Homo sapiens: one gene and its partners. The protein of the gene in region 5 purifies or fractionates together with the protein of the main gene of each other region. This does not show direct contact. Each region holds a gene or a part of one and is shown on either strand. Other genes may lie near its edges. The genes, in order: POC1A, LCP1, UGT2B7, PLBD2, MYH11, UBXN2A and ASTE1.

What was found.
Region 1: the proteins of MYH11 (region 5) and POC1A purify together in Homo sapiens (affinity purification with mass spectrometry; one large-scale study listed by BioGRID and IntAct). This does not show direct contact.
Region 2: the proteins of MYH11 (region 5) and LCP1 purify together in Homo sapiens (co-immunoprecipitation; one large-scale study listed by IntAct). This does not show direct contact.
Region 3: the proteins of MYH11 (region 5) and UGT2B7 purify together in Homo sapiens (co-immunoprecipitation; one study listed by IntAct). This does not show direct contact.
Region 4: the proteins of MYH11 (region 5) and PLBD2 purify together in Homo sapiens (affinity purification with mass spectrometry; one large-scale study listed by BioGRID and IntAct). This does not show direct contact.
Region 6: the proteins of MYH11 (region 5) and UBXN2A purify together in Homo sapiens (affinity purification with mass spectrometry; one large-scale study listed by BioGRID and IntAct). This does not show direct contact.
Region 7: the proteins of MYH11 (region 5) and ASTE1 purify together in Homo sapiens (affinity purification with mass spectrometry; one large-scale study listed by BioGRID and IntAct). This does not show direct contact.

Annotation. Positions count from the first base shown.
Region 1 is NC_000003.12:52,140,924-52,144,423, reverse strand, and holds part of POC1A (POC1 centriolar protein homolog A), read left to right. Parts: intron 1-3,500.
Region 2 is NC_000013.11:46,154,678-46,158,177, forward strand, and holds part of LCP1 (plastin-2), read right to left. Parts: intron 1,894-3,500; coding exon 1,761-1,893; intron 210-1,760; coding exon 128-209; intron 1-127.
Region 3 is NC_000004.12:69,106,474-69,109,973, reverse strand, and holds part of UGT2B7 (UDP-glucuronosyltransferase 2B7 isoform 1 precursor), read right to left. Parts: intron 2,800-3,500; coding exon 2,712-2,799; intron 1,872-2,711; coding exon 1,652-1,871; intron 1-1,651. UniProt on the Homo sapiens protein: UDP-glucuronosyltransferase (UGT) that catalyzes phase II biotransformation reactions in which lipophilic substrates are conjugated with glucuronic acid to increase the metabolite's water solubility, thereby facilitating excretion into either the urine or bile.
Region 4 is NC_000012.12:113,361,587-113,365,086, reverse strand, and holds part of PLBD2 (putative phospholipase B-like 2 isoform 1 precursor), read right to left. Parts: intron 1-3,500. UniProt on the Homo sapiens protein: Putative phospholipase.
Region 5 is NC_000016.10:15,704,832-15,707,028, reverse strand, and holds part of MYH11 (myosin-11), read left to right. Parts: intron 1-2,197. UniProt on the Homo sapiens protein: Muscle contraction.
Region 6 is NC_000002.12:23,943,463-23,946,962, reverse strand, and holds part of UBXN2A (UBX domain-containing protein 2A), read right to left. Parts: intron 1-3,500. UniProt on the Homo sapiens protein: Acts to repress the ubiquitination and subsequent endoplasmic reticulum-associated degradation of CHRNA3 by the STUB1-VCP-UBXN2A complex in cortical neurons.
Region 7 is NC_000003.12:131,016,826-131,020,325, forward strand, and holds part of ASTE1 (single-strand DNA endonuclease ASTE1), read right to left. Parts: intron 1,892-3,500; coding exon 1,681-1,891; intron 225-1,680; coding exon of another isoform or gene 175-224; exon of another isoform or gene 165-174; intron 1-164. UniProt on the Homo sapiens protein: Structure-specific DNA endonuclease that specifically cleaves single-stranded DNA and 3' overhang DNA.

The DNA of each region.
Region 1 (3,500 bases), on a different chromosome or scaffold from region 5:
CCCCCTCCATAGGAAGCCCTGAGGTTTGTTACCAATGCTCTTTCAGACAGAGGCTTCTGGAACAGAAGAGCAGTGGGGCTTGCCTCCACTTGGAGCCCATATCTTTCCTATCCTTCCTTCAGCCTTCTGCTCTGGGCCAGGCCTGAGTGAAGGGCTGGGGCTTGGGGATGGGGCACATCTGCCCAGCTGCCTGGGGAACGTGGGCAGGTGCAGAGGAGGGAGGACTTGGACAGGGAGAGATGGGAGTGGAAGGCGACGAGGCAGGACAGTGGTCAGGAGCACATGCTGTGGTTCCTTTCTGTAAAGGGGGTGGCAATAGGCCTTCCTCATGGCTTTGTGAGGCTCTGATGGGAAAAGCCACAAAAGGGTTATAACACAGGGCTAGGTATGTGGTTTGTGCTACATAAGTCCTGACACTGGGCAGAGAGGATGTCTAGGTGACCCTGGGAGGGTCCAGACCCATCTCTGATGGATCAGGAGCCTGGGCCTGGTGTTCATGGGTATAACAGCAGGTACCCCTTGGGAAGGGCCTTGGATGCCATCTCTGGCTCGGGGTCCCAAAGATGTGGCCTGATTGGCAGTGCTAGGACTAGCCTCGTCATTTAAGGTATGAAGGGAAGAAGGACATCTGAGAGGATAGCGGTGTCCAGAGCCTGCTGGGGTTGGGGGCTGGTGTGCCCCATGTGTCCCAGTGATGGGTAGGTGTCCAGCTGTGCCTGGTATCAAAGTAGGGGCTGGCATCAGAGTGGGGGATGGGTTGCAGAGGTTGAGTAGAAGCAGAGAAGCTGACCCTGTTGGGGTGGAGGGGCCAGCTGGACCCAGGGATCTGGGATGTGAGAATGGCTGAGGTCACATTCTGAGCCCCTATAATTGAGGGGCCACAGAAGATAAAGGTCCACAAAGCAGCCAGAGTGAGAGGTATGAACCCCGTCTCCAAGCATGGGAGAGCTGAGGAGGGCAGAGGCTGGGGAGTGAAGGAGAGTGGGGTCTTGTGAAGAGGGTTGTCAGGAGGTGGAGCAATGCAGAGCAGCCGAGGAGAGCGGTGGGTACTGGGGAGAGGGAGCTGGGGACCTGGAGGGAGCAGGCTTGGCAGAGGGCAGGGGCGGATCTCCATGATGGCAGGGTTGGGGAGGTGTGGATGGACTCAGATGAGCTCCAGGGGCTGAGTCCTGAGTGGAGCTGAGTGTGTGGGCTGACAGGCCCTGCTGGGAGATTGCAGTCTGCTTGTGCTTCTGGCCTTGCCTCTTATGACAGCCTCTCAGTGGGCCTGCAGTGTCTCATCCCTAAGCCACCCCTAGTGTAGATTGGAGGCTTAGCAGGATTTGGAGTACCCCATAAACACAGCCGGTTCCCCCTGAGCTCCCTGCTCAATGCCGTGGCCAGTGGTGGGTGTTCACAGGATAGCGGAGTCATCCCATAGCCTCTAGGCTGACCCTTAGGGGTGCAGTGAGCCAGGTTGATCTGAGCTCCCTGGGTAGGGGGAACATACCTCTCATCCTCTGCTGACGGGAGGACATGGCCAGGTCTGCTCTGGTCTTGGGGCTCCCCAGAAAACCTTTAGCTGAAACTAGGGGGAAACCCTCTACCCAAGTGGCTCCCCCACCCCCATAGGTGCAGTGGAATCTCTTTGGAGGCTCATTCCCCAGGAAGGGCTCCCAGTACTCTGGCAACAGATGCCTGATCCGCTTTCTGTCCCTGATCCCTAGGAAACCCAAGGGAAACCTACGGACACAGTGACGTGCAGTGTCTCCCCTAGTGACTCTGGATGGGCATCAGGCACTTCCAGAATGGCCTTCGGGTGTTGGACGCTGATGGGCTCTTGTGAGAGGATTTGGTTAATGATACTGCAGTGTGTGGCTAGCAAGCCCCAGCCTGCCTGCATCCAGCCGTCCATAGTTGTGCTCTATGAGGGCACTTCCTGTTCCTGCTAGGGTTGTTGGAGTTGAAGCCCACTTGGGGCTTTGGGCTATGGAGGCAGCTGGAGCCATTTGTCTTGCGCTGGCTGACTCTCCTAGGTAAGGAGTTTCTTGGCTCTGGCCTATCACTGCAGAGAGCAGTTCTGATTTCTCAATTCAGCAAGGATTTGGGCTGGTGGAGCCCTGGGAGTGCCAATCCCTGTGGTGGTGGGTTAGCTCCATATGCTCTGAGCCCACGTTAAGACTGTTCAGGCATCTGAGCAGCAGCCCCCATCCCAGAACCTGTAATGTGCTTCGTGCCTTACAGCACGTGCAGGTCCATTATCCAGTGACAGGCCTGGGTGGCCAGCAAAGTAGGTCTACCCTCCATTTCACAGATGCGGAGCATGCAGCCCACAGTCACACAGCTAGAAAGCTATGGGTCTGAGTCTCCACCTCAGGGCCTTTGAGTCTGGCATTCTGTTGACAGGCTCACGCTCGGTTCCTTGCACTTCGGTGACTCTAGTCATTTACTCTTCAGGCTCCCTGGGAGAGGTGGTCTCTTTGGCTGGCTGTCAGCAGGGCTTAGAACTCATAGAGTCCCAAGCTCTCTGTCCGATGGTCTTTAGTGCAGCCCTGCACCCCCGCCTGGCCTGATACATTGTCATGGAGGGTTTTGTCTTTTTTTTTTTCTCTTTCAGAGATGGGGTTGGGGTCTCACTGTATTTCCCAGGCTGGTCTTGAACTCCTGAGCTCAAGCAGTCCTCCCACCTCGGCCTCCCAAAGTGCTGGGATTACAGGCGTGAGTCACCATGCCCGGCCGGAGGGTTTTAAGTAGTTGCAGCTATCAGGGCAGGCCTGTACCCTGTACTGGGTGTTTTGAGACTAAAAGGGTTGATTGGGGTACAGTGGTGCTGTCCCACCTGATCTAGCCAACCTACTCTCCCACTGTCCTGAAGTGAGCATTTACACGGCATTTACACAGAGGAGTGTTTTGGGTGTCCTTTGCTGCTGGTATCAGAGCACTTTTGTGGTATGAATCCAAAGCCTCTTGTCAACCCAGAGCCACCGTGTCACTAGTAACATCAGTTGCGCATCGCAAGAGACCACCCTGGGGAAAATGAGCGGTCCTTTTGTGGAAGGATGTTGGGATGGGGCTTGGCCCTGGCATGGTCTCCTCTAGAGAGGAACCTCCTGCTTGGGCACCCAGGCTTTCTCTGGGCCCTTGGCTGGTTTGCAGCCCGTTAGGTAGTGGGCCTAGGTTTGCCCAAGCCTCTACAGGCAGAGCAGCATGGAGTGGGTGTACTCAGGTCTCTGCTTAGACCACCTACTGCCCACAAGCCATGACTAGTTCTTGGTATTTGGGAGCAGGGGCTGTGGTGGCCTCATCCCTGGGTCCCTGAGGATCTGTAGAAGTTTGATGTTGGTGTATCTTTGACCTGGAGTCAGAGTTCTCTCTTTGGAGTGGAGATGGGATAAGAGCCACAAGCTCACAGCTGCCACCCAGGTGGCAGTATGTGTCATCACTGATATCTGCCATGGAGCCAAGAAGAGGCCTGCGGCTTTGGACTTGAAAAAAAGTGGATCATGCTCAGACATTTGGCG
Region 2 (3,500 bases), on a different chromosome or scaffold from region 5:
AAGTCACCAGCCCAAAGCCTGGGTTTTGCGAATGATGTCTGAGCCCCTGAAAAAGGCGGACTCAGCAGTTATGATGCTCATTGATGCCAAACAAATCCTGTATTATGGTAACGGTGGGAAGACATACCTGAATGGTGAAAGGGGTTAGCTTCTTTTTGTTGATTGTTCTTTCATCAATTGTGTCTGGCACTGACAGGTTGATCATTTTACTGAAAGAGAAACAATTAAATTAAAGAAAGCAGTCTTCTGAATAACAGAGCCCAGTAACGTTGAATTTAAATTCTAGCAATACCATAATCAAAGAAGATAGCAACAGAATCTGTGATGTTTAGATATAAAATCAGTTATGCCGTTTGACTAGACTCAAACTATCTGCGGGAAAGGTGAATACTACTGAAGCCACATTCATATATTGAGGTTGGAAATGAGGACCCCACTTCATTCTCCCACCTAAACAGCTGCAAAATTATCCTGATTTTCTTAGCACATTAGGAAATTCTGGGTGGATAACCAAAGTAATTCTACCATAAGTACTTTATTTTCTTAGCCATGAAAATTGTCCCCATTATATAAAAGACTGTCTACAAAATTCTGAGCTTATTATTGTCTACATTTCTATTTGACACAGGACCAAACTTTGTATCTTCAGCTAATCATATGATAACATTTTTATATCCTTCTCAGTGCCCTAGGCTGAGTACCAATGAGTCACAGGGGTCTTAGAAGGTAAAACTAGCAGATTGGGGGAAGACCATGGGGTGCCTTGGGTGGCAACCTAAAAGCTAGAATTTTGATTTTTTTATAGCAATTGAACCTTTTAAAAATGAATTCTCAGGACAAACTAATAAATAAAATATCAAAAGTAGAATTGCTCTGGTCAGAGCAGAGGAGAAAGCTCAATGTCTTTCCCACCCATTGTTATCCTTTAAGTCCTGAGTCCCTCACATATTGAGCACCTCAAGTCACTTCACTTACAACTTGGCCTGTGATGACAGAGAACCTGCTGAAGCAAGAGCTACAGAGGTATTTTCAAAGACACCACGTTGCATTGAGCAGCACCATATTTAGAGGCCTCCCGTGGGTAGGATGCAGTCCCCCTTTTCCAGGTGTCCTCAATGTTTGAGTTGTGGATTTCTGTGCATCACTCAAAGGTTTCTTTGCTTAAGGACTACAGTTTAAGGACTTCTTCCATCATCCTGCTGCTATTATCAATTCTATCTGCTTTCATGGTGAGCCACGCTCAGATGAAGCCAAGCAGCATATATTCCAAAAATATATAACCAGGAAAATTGTCCTCATTATAGAAGAGACTATCTATGTACTTCTGAGCTTACATAATGTCTACATTTCCGCTTGATGCCTGATCCAACTTTATACTTTAAACTTGTCATCAGATAAACTTTTTAATGTCCTTCTATAGTCATTATTTAATCAGTATTTTATAAGTTTCCCCCACTTAATTATCTAATACATTGATTAGACATCTAATGCTTTTGACTTGGTATAACTATATCTTCCATGTTTATCTCTATAATGTTTATCCCTCCTCTCCACTCAAGCAATAGCAATTTTACATTTCTCATTATAAATTGTTTTTGAATTTAGTTTGCTGTCCTGGACCTGGCCAAGTGAAAGTCCAGAAAAGCCTTCTAGGTGCAGCTGAGCACCAAACAAAGTTGGCCTACGATAAATAACGATTAATTGTTGATGGTCTAGAAAATGGGCAATTCTTTGGAAACCAAGAAAGAAGTATTATTTACCAAAGGACAATGCCATCTCCAACAGCATTAAAGAGATCATTCGTGTTTGGGTTCATTGGGATGACATGCCGACAATCAGGATCATTTTCCAGGGCTTTGTTTATCCAGTTGACAAAGGCATACTTTTCTTCCTCTGCAAGTAAATGATTAAAGTGACTCATTTGCAAAGTGAAACTCTATTATAAACAAAATTATGCATGTGGATCTTAAATTCTCATTCCCAGCAGAGAGATGTGAGTTTATTCAGTCCATTATCTTATCATCTCATATTTATTAAGATTTAAAAATCTCAGATCACTTGGGAAATAGGCATTGAGTCTGTGTACTCCAAGTCATAAAACATAGAGCAAACAGATTTAAAAACTATCTCTCTGTTTCTTTTCTTTTCTTTTTTTTTTTTTTGAGATGGAGTCTCACAGTGTCACCCAGGCTGGAGTGCAGTGGCGCGATCTCGGCTCACTGCAAGCTCTGCCTCCTGGTTCACGCCATTCTCCTGCCTCAGCCTCCCCCGTAGCTGGGACTACAGGCGCCCGCCACAACACCCAGCTAATTTTTTGTATTTTTAGTAGAGACGGGGTTTCATCGTGTTAGCCAGGATGGTCTCGATTTCCTGACCTCGTGATCTGCCCACCTCAGCCTCCCAAAGTGCTGGGATTGCAGGTGTGAGCCACCGCGCCCGGCCAAAACTATCTCTCTGTTCCTATATATACGCATAATCCAGATATATATTTACATTTAGAAGCAAATATATACATATGTTTATTTTCTATATATAAATACATAAATAATAAAAATATTTTATTTATATGTGCATGTATACATATATATATACACATATAAATACAAATGTGGTATAATGCTTACAGGACAAAACTCAGGATTCCGCTTTTAGCTCTGCTGGTTTAAATGTTGGATCACTGTGGACAATCCTTATTGTACCTCTGAGTTTCTTGATACAATTATAATTAAATTGCTATAAAATAAAATCATTTGGATATAATCTTTTTTTCCTAACAGTAAAGCTGCCAGAAGGTGATTTTTAGATGTTTTAATAAAAACTCAAGTTATGTCTTCACAGCCTAGCACTATGTTTCCCAAACTGACAGTTTTTGAAAACAGTAGTGTCCCTCAGAGAAATCCTGAGTCATAAAAGTTTGGGAAATACTGTGTAGTGAATGTATCTCCGCCTTAAAGATTCACATTGCACATTTGACCCAGCAAAGGTTCTGAAAATTCCTGTATTTAAAAACAAAAGGCCAAACGTTGTCTTAGCAACTATAGATGGTATTTAATCATGACTTATCTTTTTTTTTTTTTTTTTTTTTTTTGAGACAGAGTCTTGTTCTGTCGCCAGGCTGGAGTGCAATGGTGCAATCTCGGCTCACTGCAACCTCTGCCTCCTGGGCTCAAGCGATTCTCCTGTCTCAGCTTCCCGAGTCGATGAGATTACAGGCATGCGCCACTGCACCCAGTAGAACGGGGTTTCACCATGTTGCCCAGGCTAGTCTTTAACTCCTGACCTCAGGTGATCCACCCGCCTTGGCCTCCCAAAGTGCTGGGATTACACGCGTGAGCCACTGTGCCCGGCCTCATGAGTTTATCTTTAAGATCAACTAACGTTTTGAATAATTCAGTTTTGGAAATGTTGCAACAACTATACTGTTTGGCCTGTTGGAAGTTTCCATTATGGCTGTTGGATGGCAGCCTTCGGAATAAATTTACAAATTTATTCCAAATCAA
Region 3 (3,500 bases), on a different chromosome or scaffold from region 5:
TGTCCAAGCTGGTTTGTGTTCTTTTTCAATTATTTCCTATCTTCTTTAAAGGTATTTTTATCATTCATTATCCTTCTTTTTTTGTGATAAAGTATTTTTCAAGTATTCCTTTAGATGATACCCTGCTTATATAAAAAAACATTATTGATAGTAGCTATAAATGCTGAATTGATGGTAGCTGGACTCCACAAGGAATTTTGCACATTGATATCTTTGGGTTTGAAAAAATCAATTATTAAAAATTTAACTTAAAATTATATTTTTTGTGCTTCAAAGACCAACATCAAAAAGTAAAATTTAGTGCACCCAGAGTGGGACAAAATATTTACAAGTTATATATCTGACATGACCCATAATATATAAATAGTTCTTAAACTTAATAATAAGACAAATAGCAAAGTTTAAAAATGTTCCAAGGATTGGATAGACTGTTTTCAAAGAAGATATATGAATGATCAGTAGGCACGTATGAAGATTCTCAACACCTTTAGCCGTAATGAAAATGCAATCCAAGACCAGGATGAGAGATCATTTTACACCCACTAAGAAGGCTGTAACAAAAAGTCAGGGAATAACAGGTTTGGCAAAAGTATGGAGGAATTGGAACCATGTTGTACTGCTGGTGGTAGTCATGAATGAAACAAGTACTTTGGAAGACAGTTTAGCAGTTCTTCATAAACATACAGTTCCCACATGAAGCAGCAATTCCACTTATAGTATCAACCCTAAAGAAAGGAAAACATGTTTATGCAAAAACATGTGTAGCAATCTTCCTAATAGCCACAATTGAAAACAATCAAAAGGCCAATGAACTGATAAGTGAACAACTAAAATATGACATATCTTTACTAAAAAATATTAAACTGCTATAAAAAGAAATGAAGTATTAAAACACACAACAACATGAATGAAACTAAAACCAGAAAAAAAAAACAACAAAAAATTAGCCTAGGTGAAATGTCATTTCACAACACCCTAAACTGTATGATTCCATTCATATGAAATATCTAAAGAGAATAATCTATAGAGAAAGGAAACAAATTAGTTAGACCAGGGCTAAGCGGTCATAGGAAGTGACTTCTGTGTCATTGCAGTTTCTTTTGTGTTGATAAAAATGTTCTAAAATTATGTAATAGTGATGGCTTCATGGCTCTGTAAACATACTAAATATATTTGGATTTTATAACATAAACAGGGGGGTTTTATGCTATCAAAATTAAATCTCATTTTCAAGTCTGTTACAATAATGATAATAATAAAAGTTAATTTTTCAGCAAGAAAATGGTTATACTCTGAGGTGTTTTAGATATCTAATTAAAATATTTTATTATATTATTTCAGGTTTATTCTTCCTTTCTTCTATGGATTAATTATGTCAAATTTTTAAGAAATGTATTTTTTGTATTATCTATATCCTTTTAAAATTATTTTTGTGTAGAAAATTGTTTCACTAACTGGCTATTCTTTAGATGTATGTGTTTCAAATTCAATTTTTAAATAACTTATAAAAATAAAAGCAGATTTCAGATTGGTTAAATCATTTAAATTCTTTCAAAATTAGTCTCTTATAAAAAGGATGAAACTCACACTCACTATTGACAAGAGAAGCTATCTGTAAATACCACCTAGTGAAAAATATTGTTCTACTCACGAAGGATCATTAATTACTCTCTTCAATGCATTCAGCAAGTCTGTACTCGACATTGTGTTGAAGTCCACTCTAACAGCTGCTCCCCTGGCCTTCATGTGAGCAATGTTATCAGGTTGATCGGCAAACAATGGAATCCCCACCATAGGGATCCCATGGTAGATTGCCTCGTAGATGCCATTGGCTCCACCATGAGTTATAAAAGCTCTGGTCTTTGGATGACCTAGGATTGGATGAATTTTAGCAAAATTACTCATAGGAATAAAATGAGATGCACAATGAAAGGCTCTGAAAGTGACAGTGTTTTCCAGCTAAAACACTGAACTAAATTAAAATTGTGTTTCAGACTTCGGAGGAAAAAACACGTACTTGTACTGGGTATGTAACTGAAGGCTATACGGTGTGTGTGACTTCAGACTGCAAAACAATACAAGATTTCCAGTTGGGCTAATGAAAAATTGCATTCTAGATTTCAAAAATGTGCAAAAAAGAAGACAGCAAAGAGATAGGCATGAAGTGAACTCTTATTTTAAGTGCAGTCACAGAGTGTGATATATGGGGTGGGCAAGGCAGCAGGCAGTGGTTTGGTGGTGGTGCTAGGATTGAGGAAGGACAGGTCACACTTCATCGTGAAATGTATCATCACTGTATGATTAAGATTAGCAGTTTAATTCTTCAGAAAATACAGAGTCACTGGTGATAGAAGAGCTATTATTTTTAGTGGCATTTCAAATAACCCTGCGGGAGAGGAAAAAAACAGGTGTAAAGTTGTAGAAATAGGAGACAGAGAGACAGCCCAGGAAGTTATTGAAAAATTTTGTGAGATATAATAACACCTGAAATAAAGATTCCCCCGATTCAGACTATAAAGAATGTGGGTGTATATCATAAAATGCCAAAAATTATAATGTATTCTTTCTCCCTTAAGACTGGAAAATCAATATAAAGAAGTTACATTTTGTTTTTCCTTAACAAATATTCAATAAGCTTGTTTCATGATGAACTATTAACACTCTAATGTGCTGTTACTAATATATTCAGTATTTGTTCACCAGAGTCTTACCTAGAAGGTCATTCTGGGGTATCCACTTGTAGAGCCGAGTATTGAGACCTAAGGTATCTGGTTTATTCCCATCAAATCTCCACAGAACCTGTTACAATAAAGAAAATATTTTATTCCATGAGTGGAATTCAAAAGTTATAGAATGTGAGAACTGTATAAAGAGTAGGAATGAGATCAAGGGATGTTAGTAAATAAGAACTACTCAAAGACTAATGTAAATAGAATACTCACATTAATTTTCTCAACTTTTATAATTAGTTAGGTATATAAGGAAATCATGATTTTCCAAAATAGTACCTTAGAAAAAATCAGATTATCAATGAAAATTTCAAGCATTTAAAAAATTGTTACACCTTTTAAAAGAAAACCTACGTGTGGCCAACCATCATATGAAAAAAAAAAAGAAAAAAGCTTAACATCATTAGAGAAATGCAAATCAAAACCATAATGAGATAGCATCTCACACCAGTCAGAATGGCTATTATTAAAAACTCAAAAAATATCATGATACTGGTGAGGTAGTATAGAAAAGGCTTGCTTATAATCTGTTGGTGGGAATGTAAGTTTGTTCAACCATTGTGGAAGACTGGCGATTCCTCAAAAACCTAGAGGTAAAAATACCATGAAACCCAGCAATCCCATTACTGGGTATATAACCAACGGACTATAAATGGTTCTTTTATAAAGACCCATGCACAGGTGTATTAATTGCAGTACTTTTCACAATAGCAACGACATGGAATCAACCTAAATGCCCATTGATTATGGGCTGAATAGAGAAAATATGGT
Region 4 (3,500 bases), on a different chromosome or scaffold from region 5:
TGAACTTCGGGCTAATTATTCACATAGCATCACAGATAAGGACAGAGGAAAAAACAAGGGGAAAAAATTAGATTTTTAAATTTCAAGGAGAATGGAAGACAAAGAGTTTGGGCTTGTGGGTCCCTCCGACTTGGTCTGAATCCCTGGGTAGATCCCTTACTGGTTGTGTACCTTTGGGCAAACTGCTTTACCTCTCGGGGCCTCGGTTTTCTCATCTGTAAAATGGGCAGAGTGACTCCCCCTTCAGAGGACTGCTGTGGCATGTGCCAGGAGAGAACACACATTATGCACTCACTAAGTATTTGTCTCATCAAGAATCTGAGAGGAGATGGCGCAGTGGCTCATGCCTGTAACCCCAGTGCTTTGGGAGGCTGAGGTGGGAGGATCACTTGAGACCAGGAGTAAGAGACCAGCCTGGACAATAAAGCGAGACTCCCCTCTCTACAAAAAATACAAAATAAATTAACCAGGTGTGGTGGTGCTTGCCTATAGTCACAGGAGGCTGGGGCTAAGATGGGAGGATCGCTTGAGCCCAGGCTGCAGTGAGCTATGATCACACCACTGTACTCCAGTCCAGACAATAGAGCAAGATGCTGTCTCATTAAAAAAAAAAAAAGAATCTGAGGGGGTAGGAGTTTGAGGAGACCCGGCGAGTGTGATGATGGGAGGAAGATTATAACAGGGCCCAATATGCAGATCCCCTCGTGATAAAAGCTGGCAGTGGATCAAAGGAGACCTCGGACAAACTGCGTAAAACCAAAAAAGCTGTGCAGCCGCGAGCCCCAGTAGTAACTGAGCGGCCAGTGGCCTCCTCCAGGGCACACCTGGTGAGAGCTACCCCTTCTAGCAAGGGTGGGCTCAGCCAAGGCCTCGGCACTGAGGCCCCGGAGACGGGCAGTGGTTAGGAACCCATTCCCTGGCCGGATGCTCATACAGCCCTGCAGAGATGGGCATAAAGGCCCTTCTTCACAGCAGGACTTCTCTTCAAAGCCAGAAAAGACGGGCCTTCCCGAAACACCCATCATTAGGGGCCTGATACAATAATCACACATGCCATAGCGGACTGCATGTGCTGATGAGCAAAGAGGTCAGAGATGAAGTTCAAAAAAAAGTCGAGAAGTCCAAATGGTAGGCACGAACTAAGCCCCTGTGTAAATGCATCACACACCACATATGCCTCTACATTTATATGTATGCAAGAAGGTTTAGGCCTCTTTATGCATAGAAAATTCTGGAAGAAAGAGCTAAAAGTCCGGGTGCAGTGGCTCACGCCTGTAATCCCAACACTCTGGGAGGCTGAGGCGGGTGGATCATGAGGTCAGGAGATCGAGACCATCTTGGCTAACATGGTGAAACCCCGTCTCTACTAAAAATACAAAAAATTAGCCGGGCGTGGGGGCGGGCACCTGTAGTCCCAGCTACTCGGGAGGCTGAGGCAGGAGAATGGCGTGAACCCGGGAGGCGGAGCTTGCAGCGACCCGAAATCGCGCCACTGACTCCAGCCTGGGCAACAGGGCGAGACTCCACCTCAAAAAAAAAAAAAAAAAAAGCTAAAAATGTTTATATCTAGGAAGAATGGTAGGGGGAGGCTTTTACTTCCCATATCCCATCCCCTCTTTCTAAACTGCTAGAAATTTGTTTTGTTTTGTTTTGTTTGAGATAGGGTCTCACTCTGTCACCCAGGCTGGAGTGCACTGGCGTGATCACAGCTCAGTGTAGCCTCACCTGGACTCAAGCAGTCCTCCCGTCTCAGCTTCTGAGTAGCTGGAACTACAGGCACGCACCACCGTGCCCAGCTAGTTTTTTATATTTTTTGCAGAGATAGGGTCTCACCATGTTGCCCAGGCTGGTCTCAAACTCCTGGGCTCAAGCAATCCTCCTGCCTCGGCCTCCCAAAGTGCTGGCATTACAGGCACAAGCCACAGCGCCCGGCCAGAAAAACACTTTAGAGTGTGTCTATAACTAGATGTGCTTATTAAAGACTACTCTTCGGCCAGGCACAATAGCTCACACCTGTAATCCCAGCACTTTGGGAGGCTGAGGTGGGCAGATCACCTGACGTCAGGAGTTCAAGACCAGCCTGGCCAACATGGTGAAACCCCATCTCTATTAAAATTACAAAAAAAAAAAAAAAATTAGCTGGGTATAGTGGCTCACACCTGTAATCCCAGCTACTAGGGAGGCTGAGGCAGGAAGATCACTTGAACCCAGGAGGCGGAGGTTGCAATGAGCCAAGATCATGCCACTGCACTCCAGCCTGGGTAACAGAGCAGACTCTATCTCAAAAAAAAAAAATAAATCAAAAGAAGATTACTCCTTATTCAGAGAGTATGTCCTTTCTGCTTGTTTGCTCTAAAATTGCCAATCTTTTATGAGATAAACGCTGACAGGGGTTGACAAATATTGCTCTCCTTTGTTTTTAATGCACTTGCTTGACAAAAATTAAAAGTTGGCAGCAGTAGGTCTGTTTCCTCAATCTTTTTTTTTTTTTCCTGGAAAATCTATGGGCCAAATTGCAATTTCATGCCAGGGGCAGCTAATGTCTCTAAGATGACTCAAGAGTCTAATCAAGGTGCCTCTTGAAAGAGGCCACATTGGAAAAAGTCAGACCACTGATATGAGCAGGGGGCCACAAATATCTCACAAATATCAGCACCCCACTTCCGCAGTCTAGTATGGCCTTGGATGCTCTCCATTATGTGGGATGCCCCCCATAACTGTGTCTATCACTCCTATCTCAGCCTTTTTTTTTTTTTATTTGAGACAGGGTCTCACTCTGTTGCCCAGGCTGGAGTGCAGTGGCACAATCACAGCTGACTGCAGCCTCGACTTCCCAGGCTCAAACGAGTAGCTGGGACCACAGGCATGCGCAACCACACCCAGCTAATTTTTTACTTTTTTTTTGCAGAGACAGGGTTTCACCACATTGCCCAAGCTGGTCTCGAAATCCTGGCCCCTCGCCATCCTCCTGCCTCGGTCTCCCAAAACATTGGGATTACAGGCATGAGCTACAGCGCCTGTCCTCCTTTCTCATTCTTGATGGTATAGATTCATCTCCTGTGATTGTTCAAAGAAACAGCTGGGCCTTATTTATCCATTTTACTGGGCTGTTTTTGCCTGTTGGTTGGTGGATTTGGGATGCTTCCCCGTTTACTAAATTTGTTAATTCCCTCTAACTTTGATTCACTTCCTCTCTCAACGGGATGGTGATTTACTTTAAGCAACCTCGTCGATAAGGTGCTGGTCAGTGGGATCAGATCAGGGAAGGAAGACAAAGTAAGGTTGGAGGATACAGCTTCCCCAGGACCAAGGCCAGAGCTAGACTGAGGCAGGCTCTGCTCCTAGTGACATCTCTGATCTCCAAGCACCAAATCATAAATGTTTCCAGGCTGTGTGGGGGTGTTGGCCCAAAGTCAAGATATGGCACAACTGAAAGAAGGTACCGAGCACAGTGGCTCACATCTGTAATCCCAACATTTGGGGATGCTAAGGTGAGAGGA
Region 5 (2,197 bases):
AGACCCTTTAAGAAAACCTTTAGGGGGGTCCCTTAGTTCCTGTAACAGGTATAGTTGGTGTCAACCTTGGTCTAGGATTTGAAACCAGTTCCAAGAAAAGCACTTCAGCCAAAACAGAGTATCTTGCAGGCTGACAGCCAAGCAAGGAGCTTCAACGGCCCAGGGCACAATGTATTTCTTAGGTCAAGGGAGCAAATTTATCCATTAAGCTTTTCCAGTTAGCAAATAGACTCTTCCAAGAGCCAAAAAGAGAGTGCCTAGAGCACTGATGTGGAGGTTAGGGACTACTTCCCAGCTCATCAGATTTTTTTTTGTTTTTTTTTTTGGAGACAGTCTTGCTGTTTCCCAGGCTGGAGTGCAGTGGCACAACGTTGGCTCACTGCAGCCTTCACCTCCTGGGTTCAAGCAATTCTCCTGCCTCAGCCTCCTGAGTGACTGGGATTCCAGGCGCCTGCCACCACGCACGGCTAATTTAGTATATTTAGTAGAGACGGGGTTTCACCATATTGGCCAGGATGGCCTCGAACAACTGACCTCACGAGTGATCTGCCCACCTCGGCCTCCCCAAGTGCTGGGATTACAGGCATGAGTCGCAGCAACTGGCCAACCCATCAGGGTTTGAACCTGGAGTTAAAACTGTGACGAAGAGAGCTGTGTGGGGAGCGTACAGGGAACAGTCAAACTGCTGCTCCTCTGCGCTGAATTTGAGCATCCTTCTGAGTCAAGCGCTTGGAAAACAGTGCTAAAAAAGAAAAAGACTTAAGGGTCACATCTAGAGAGAGAAGGATGGAGAGTTCTCTAGTAGGGCTGCAAGTCCAGAAGCTTCTCTGTGAAGCTGGGCTAGGAGTGTTTACTTTGAAGTGGCTGCAGCTTTAAGTATTTATTCCTGATCGCTGCACTGCGGGAAGTCCCATCCTTTATAGCCAGGTGGGCTTTCCCAGCCGGGGTCTCTCCCATCCTCTGTCAACAAAAGGGTCATTTGCGAATTCCTCTTCTCAGTGATCATGAATCTCTGGGCCTTGATTTTTTTTTTTTTTTTTTTTTGAGACGGAGTCTCACCCTGTCGCCTAGGCTGGAGTGCAGTGGCCACATCTCGGCTCACTGCAAGCTCCGCCTCCTGGGTTCATGTCATTCTCCTGCCTCAGCCTCCCTCCCGAGTAGCTGGGACTACAGGCACCCGCCAGCACGCCCGGCTAATTTTTTGTATTTTTAGTAGAGACACGGTTTCACCATGTTAGCCAGGATGGTCTCGATCTCCTGACCTCATGATCCGCCCGCCTCAGCCTCCCAAAGTGCTGAGATTACAGGTGTGAGCCACCATGCCCAGCCGAGTTGTTCCTTTTGACTAAAGAATTGGTCACTGAGTTGTGTTCATCCTTATGGCTTCTTATCCAACCCTTGCGTGGGGAGCAAAAGTCTGCTCTCTTCTTTGATGTCCTAAAATAAGACCTGTCTTCCGATTCAGGTCAAACAGGGCCAGATGGCCAGAGCCCAACATAATTATTTGTTGCGGTTGCTGAAAAGAGTTAAGTGTTTCTTCTGAACGGTGAAGGCTGGCAGCAGGCAGATCTGATTTTTCCTTCTTCTGCCCACTCTCTTCCTCCTACCCAAAGTCTCCCCTCACGTGACCAGCCCTTCCTGTGAAGTCGAGGTGATAAACTCAAGAGAGAACCAGCGCAGAGAGGAGATGGCAGCATTAAGGAGAGACAGGGGTGTCCTACTGGCTGGAGCTAAAATCCACCTCAGAGGCCAGGTGCACTGGCACACACCTGTAATCCCAACACTTTGAGAGGCTAAGACAGGTGGATCGTTTGAGGCCAGGAGTTCAAGACCAGCCTGGGTCACATGGCAAAATCCCATCTCTGCTAAAAATACAAAAATTAGCCAGGCGTGGCAGTGTGCACGTGCATGTAGTCCCAGCTACTCAATACTGAGGCTCAAGGACTGCTGGAACTCAGGAGGCAGAGGTTGCAGTGAGCCAAGATCATGCCACTGCACTCCAGCCTGGGTGAGAGAGACTCTTAAATTTCTTTTTTAAATCCACCTTGAAGGCCAGGTGTGGTGGCCCACGCCTGTAATGCCAGCGCTTTGGGAGGCCAAGGTAGGAGAACTGCTTGAGCTCAGGAGTTCCAGACCAGCCTGGGCAACAATATCAAGACCTCATCTCAATTTAATAAAATAATCCACCTTGGATTAA
Region 6 (3,500 bases), on a different chromosome or scaffold from region 5:
TGAACTATAATTGTGCCACTGAATTTCAGCCTGGGTAAGAGTGAGACCCTGTCTCAAAAAAAAAAAAAAAAAAAATTAATAAATTGGGAGTCTGAGACTCTTCTGACTTGGGAGACTGTCTGATTTCTTTTTTAAAATCTATAAACAAAAATTTAAAATAAGTGTATAAGAATCTGAATATAAAAACTACATCTTAAGAATTAAATAGGGCTGGGTGCGGTGGCTCATGCCTGAATCCCAGCACTTTGGGAGGCTGAGGCAGGTGGACCACTTGAGGTCAGAAGTTCAAGACCAGCCTGGCCAATATGGTGAAACTCCATCTCTACTAAAAATACAAAAATTGGCCAGGCATGGTGGCTCATGCCCGTAATCTCAGCTCTTTAGGAGGCTGAGGCGGGTGGATCACGAGGTCAGGAGATGGAGACCATCCTGGCCAACATGGTGAAACCCCGTCTCTATTAAAATACAAAAAAAAATAGCCAGGTATAGTGGCGTGCGCCTATAGTCCCAGCTACTCAGCAGGCTGAGGCAGGGGAATCGCTTGAACCCAGGAGGCGGACATTGCAGTGAGCCGAGATCACGCCACTGCACTCCAGCCTGGTGACAGAGTGAGTAAAAAAAAAAAACAACAAAAAACAAAAATTAGCCAGGCATGATGGCACACGCCTGTAGTCCCAAGCTACTCAGGAGGCTGAGGCGGGAGAATCGCTTGAACCCGGAAGCAAAGGTTGCAGTGAACTGAGATTGCACTACTGCACTCCAGCCTGGATGTCGAAGTGAAACTCTGTCTAAAAATAAATAAATAAATAAATAAACAAAAGAATTAAATGTGGCTGGACACAGTGGCTCATGCCTGTAATCCCCACACTTTGGGAGGCCCAAGGGGGCAAATCACTTGAGGCCAGGAGTTTGAGACCAGGCTGGCCAACCTGGCAAAACCCTGTGCCTACTAAAAATACAAAAACTAGCCGGACGTGGGAACACACACCTATAATCCCCAGCTACTCGGGAGGCTGAGGCACGAGAATTGCTTGAACCTGGGAGGCAGAGGTTGCAGTGAGCTGAGATCATGCCACTGTACTCCAGTTCAGCCTGGGTGACAGAGTGAGACCCTGTCTCAAAAAAAAAAAAAGAGAAGAAAAAAAAAGAATTAAATGCATAATTAAAAATTAAATTAAAAATTGCACATTACAATTTTATTTTTTAAAACATATATTTCATGGTCAAAAGGAATTTGAGGAGAAAAAATGCAAAAACAAACAAAAAACTGGCCACTTTTTTTTAGATTATGGATTTGTATCAAGGTATTATACAATCAGACATGCTACCTTTATATAGAAGCTTACGTTTCTTTTTAAGGATAAGGCCATTCCAGGTATTAAACACGAGGGAAAAGAAACCAATGGATCACATTTCCATGTTGGGTTCCTTTTACTTAGATCTTCTATGGAATGTGATTAGGCCCCCAAGCCTCCAAAAGCAACCAACTATGATAGCATCAGAACCAAATACTTAAAAGACAGTTCATTTGTATATTTTGTGAATTCTGGTTTACTATATACTAAGTGATAGAAAATGAAATCTTTTGGAAAGTTTCAGCTTATTTTAGCTGTAATCATAGTAATGAAGAAAATATATTTTTGTCCTTTCCTAGAAATTTTTAATGGGCTACTTATATACTCCAAGGACCAAAGTGGTAGTGACAACAGTAATTTAAATGAGAAAATCCTATGGGAAAGGTGACACTTAGGCAGAGACTGGCAAGGTTACTTATTGAGTCATTCCAGGGCTGACCAAGACATTCCCATTCCAGGACATTCTCATTCCAGGGCTCCATACTGAAATGTTATCTTATGTCACAAAGGGCCCTCCCCCCTTTTTTTTAATAAGTATTTTAATTCAGTTTCAGAAAAAAGTGGTACATGACTTGGATGAGAAAGCAAAAAATTAAGAGGCTTTTCTAGAAATGCAAGAAAAAAAACTTTAATATATTCAATAATTTTCTGGATCTTCCTCTTGGGTCAAAAGCTATATATTTTCTCCTCAAAGCAGCTGCTCCAAGAACTAACTAGTCCTCTTTAGCTCTCTCTAGCTGGGACAGACTAATTCTGCTCCACTCCCACCTCTCTTCTTTCAGTAACACTGCGTAGGTGTTAATGGCCTGGCTCTCACCAATGAACAGAACTGTCCTTTAAGCCAGCAACTCACAGGCAGTGGTGCCCAAAGCCTCACCCCCAGTCCCCAGGGCAGAAGCCACAGAGCTGGCATTGTTTCCAATATCCCAGGAAGGAGGAGCCAAAAGCTGACCTTCAGCACAAATCAAAGCCCAATATGGAGAGAGAATAACTGCTTCTAGGCCCAGATTAGGCAAGCTGTGGGCAAAAAAAGGGGAGTTTTTGCAGCCACCCCATCTTTAGAAACAAGGGGAAAACTAGACCCTTTTCCACCATTACGGTCTACAAGGTACTGTACTGTTCCAAGGGGATCTGAAAGCGCAAAAGAATCTAAACAAATAAGGAGAACTTTTCCCAGGGTGGAGATAAGACTGACAAACTGAAAGATGGGTGAATACAATAATGTGTAGGAAGATGATGCTGGTCACCTCAGTTCTTCACACAGCTGCCAGCCCTACAAATAACACAGTAAGAACCAGGACAACCACTCCAGACTGGTATAGCTGGGGAATCTTCAGGCCTTTTCCTAGGTCCCACATCAAGTGTTGGATCCCATTCCAGGTATGATACATGAGAGGGAAGACGAGTGCAAACTTAGTTGTGTCCATCAGTGCTGGCCCCAGACACAGGGACCAATGAGTTCCAAGTAAGACTTAAACTTTCCTGGGAGTAACAGGGCTGACATGCCAAAAAGAGACCCCTGTGCTCAAAGCAATACCAGAGCCATGGTGGCAGATGGACATCGACATAGGAAGACACCAACTCTAGATAGTGACGTGGGGAGATACGGGACGGTTTGAACCTGTGTTCTTATTCCAGAACCATTCCATCTCTTCTTTGGCCATGATTCCCAAAGGAACAGCATTTCTGATACAAAGCTGAGGGCTAAAGTGCGCTCGGAGGCAATGACCACTCCAACATGTCTCAGCAAGAGTGCAGCCATCTTGGGTTCTGGTCTGGACGGAAATGCAAAGCTCATTTTAAATATAATCTCCTTTAGCTGGGCACGGTGGTTTAAGCCTGTAATCCCAGCACTTTGGGAGGCCAAGACGGGCAGATTACCTGAGGTCAGGAGTTCGAGACCAGCCTGACCGACATGGTGAAACCCTGTCTCTCTCTACTAAAAATACAAAATTAGCTGGGTGTGGTGGTGCATACCTGTAATCCCAACTACTTGGGAGGCTGAGGCAGGAGAATTGCTTGAACCCAGGAGGCAGAAGTTGCCATGAGCCAAGATTGGGTCATTGCACTCCAACCTGGGTGGCAAGAACAAAACTCTATCTCAAATAAATAAAAACATACATACATACAATCTCCTTTAGAAAA
Region 7 (3,500 bases), on a different chromosome or scaffold from region 5:
TAATCATTTTCTTTTCATAGTAGAGGATAAGGGGCAAGAAGCAACAATCCTAGGAAATAAGGAATGTTGTGTGTTTTTAGCTGTAAGTTTCTACAGATTTGTTTGGGCAGGGGTGCACAAAATAACATCTGGACCAATTTGAAAATAATAAAAAGGAGGCCCACCTTTTACCAACTAGCGAGGAGCAAGACACTGAGCCTGCCTGGGTACAGGGTCCACATTTCCTAAAAGAAAAGAAACAGACCCTTGACATGCCCCTTCTCTTGGACTCAGGTAAAAACTTAATAGGCTTGTGCTCTGAGAGCTTTCTTATACTGTATTTATTATTCAATCAGAGGAAATACTCTAAACCTGTGTTCATAAAGCAGCAGTGGGACTTAACTGATTTGTTTTGTGTTAAGTTGGCTGTCATATAACAACAGTCCCTCTGACAGCTGTCAAGCTTGAGCCTTAATACTTTAGAAACAGGAATCCATGCTGTTTCATTCTTTTATCTAACTTATTAAAATAGTAAACTAGAGTAGCACGATCTAATAGAACTTTCTGCAGTGCTGTCCAATACAGTAGGCTAGCCTATAGCCATATGTAACTACCTGACACTTGAAGTGTGGCTAGTGTGACTGAAAAGCTGAATTTTTAATTTAAATGGAATTTAACTTTGGCCATGTGTGGCTAGTAGCCACCATATTAGATAGTACTATTCCAGAGTATAATTATTATGCATGTTTATACAGTGTTAGAGCATTCATAATCTTTAAAGAGGATATTCCACTGAAGTATTAAAGTGTCCCAGTGTTTCAGCATTTACTTCACCTGGTATTATATGCAGATGAACTTGCCTCAGTGTATTTAAGAGATATTACTGGCCGGGCGCGGTGGCTCATGCTTGTAATCCCAGCACTTTGGGAGGCTGAGGCGGGTGGATCACAAGGTCAGGAGTTCAAGACCAGCCTGGCCAAGATGGTGAAAACCCGTCTCTACTAAAAATACAAAAATTAGCTGGGCGCGGTGACAGGCACCTGTAATCCCAGCTACTCGGAAGGCTGAGGCAGAAGAATCACTGGAACCCAGGTGGCAGAGGCTGCAGTGAGCCAAGATTGCACCACTGCACTCCAGCCTAGGCAACAGAGTGAGACTCCATCTCAAAAAAAAAAAAAAAAAAAAAAAAAAAGGACAAATTACTATTTCTGCCATCACTACTTACATACTAATTGAAACCTACAGCAGAGAAAAAGGAATAAAAAGATGTATAAGCAAGAATGTAGTGGTTGTAGGTATTTAGATAAGTTTCACTTCTGGGCAAGTTTCTTGTGATGACGTTGCTGCTGTGCTAATAACTGGATAGGTAACATGGAATACAAAATGCAGCTGGCAAAATACACTGTCACAATTCACAAGTTAAAGGAGTAGGTGCCACCAAACAGATGGAAGTTGGCAGTACCCCAACACATCTCACTGCTGTATACTTAAGATTCAAGCCCTCCAGCACTGAGCCTGGCACATGAAGTGTTAAAAAATATTTACCAATGAATGAATGATATTTTGGTGCCTCCACATCTAAGTTGTGATACAATTAATGGGAGTAAATAATCCAAGAATACTTTTTTGTTTGTGTAAACTCGAGTAAACAGTTTGCAAGCAACATGCCACAATATACTCCTGTAATTTCCAGTTACCTACCAGGGCTGTTGATTATGGCAATCAAGGGCCCCACTAGCATTGTGAGCAGTAAGGATTGTAGATGATGTAGCTTTGCTTTGGTCTCGGTGTGCTGCAACCAGTAGCAACTGACAGCAATGGGCAACTTCAGTGAAGTAGGGATTGGCTCCAGAATGGTCTGTTTCACCTTCAGGGTTTCTAACAGAAGCATCTGCCGCCTCCTCAAGGAGAGCTGAAAATACACACCAAGTATCCTGCAAGTTACTTTGGGAAATGTCTGTTATTTCTTTTTTCCACCATAGCATGAAGAGATTTAATGCTACTGAAACTTCTGTCAGCTGTTAAACTTATCTTCTTGTGGGAAAAAAAATCAGCCACACTCACAGCATTTAGAACATTAATAAGATGCTTTATAAATATGGTTGGTTGAATGGGTGTACTGCCTACTCCTACACCTTTACTTATGTCATTCCATCCTCTTTGTATACGCTGGTGAGCATCTTCAGTGCACGTCACCTGGGAAGCTCATTAAAAATTCAATCCTTAGGCCCTACTCCATAAATTTTGATTGACTAATCTGAGAGAGAGCCCAGGAGGAATATACATTTTAACTAGCAGCCCAAGTATTCTACTTTGAGAAACAAAGCTGTATACTCAACACCACCTGTATGTGCCTGTGCAACAGGCATTTGCCTTCAGCATGATGCCATTACTAATTGCCTCCAGAAGACAAACGTTGCTTTTAGGAACCCTATGTGGCATATACTCTATTTGTTTGGGTCCTGTCTCATGTCCCTTCCCTGTTGAATGCTTTATTGTCTTTGCATAAAAGACACACAGGGATTGTCCCAGGGTGGCTGCTTGTAGATTAGAGGTATATTCAAGGGAGATAGGAATATTTTAAGGACTACTTGCATTGTGCTTGGAGTAACACGCCATACTTTTACTTCATGGTTTAGCGTGTACTTCAAATAAAAGCTCAGAAGTAAAACAGCTATAAGAGCACTGAGGTTCTTGTTGAAATAATTTTACCTTAATGAATTACCAAGACCTTGTAAGAACCAGAATGGGGACCTTACAGGTCATGCACTCAGGAATATTAAAAGGTCATCTTCTGGGGGACTTTATAATCAAACTTTAAGAAAAAGAAAAGTTGTATTCCTAGTGTCTGCACACAGCCAGAAAAAGATTTTCTGCTTTCTGGAAAGTTGAGATGGTAATAACATTTCTCAGCATGTAACATCTAGTTAGTAGAAAGAGTGGTTGACAGCTGAGACTAAAGATATTAACCTGAAACAAAACACATCATAAATGACAAAATAGTTTTATCATTAATGCATGAAAACTTTAAATAGTACGATTATTTCTAAATACTGCTTTTAATAATATTGTGATACAAATTTTAAAATTAGAAATATGCAAAGAACTTTATAGTATAACCAATTACCCCTACTGGAAGTAGTTTTAACTACTTAAATTTTAAGTAAAGTGGAAACTAAACTCTTAAACTGGTTTTTAAAATGCACTAAGTAGAGCTAAGAAAATACACCAACTCTTTTCTGATATATATTTAAATTACTGAATTATAGAGCCAAGTTACAACTTTTCATAAACAAAGCAGTCTGGGCTTTGACTTCAGAGATGTTCCGCTCTGCACTAACCCTATGGCTTTGGTCGAAAGGTTTCTGACCTTTTCTACAGTCTGTCTGACTTATCTGTAAAATGGTCATTATAATGACTTGTATAAGATGTTTCATCAAACCCACCAGTCCACAGTCCCTTCCAAAAGGGGAAGTACTCAACTCACAGCCCTTAACGTTAGTTAGGTTTTATCCCATGTG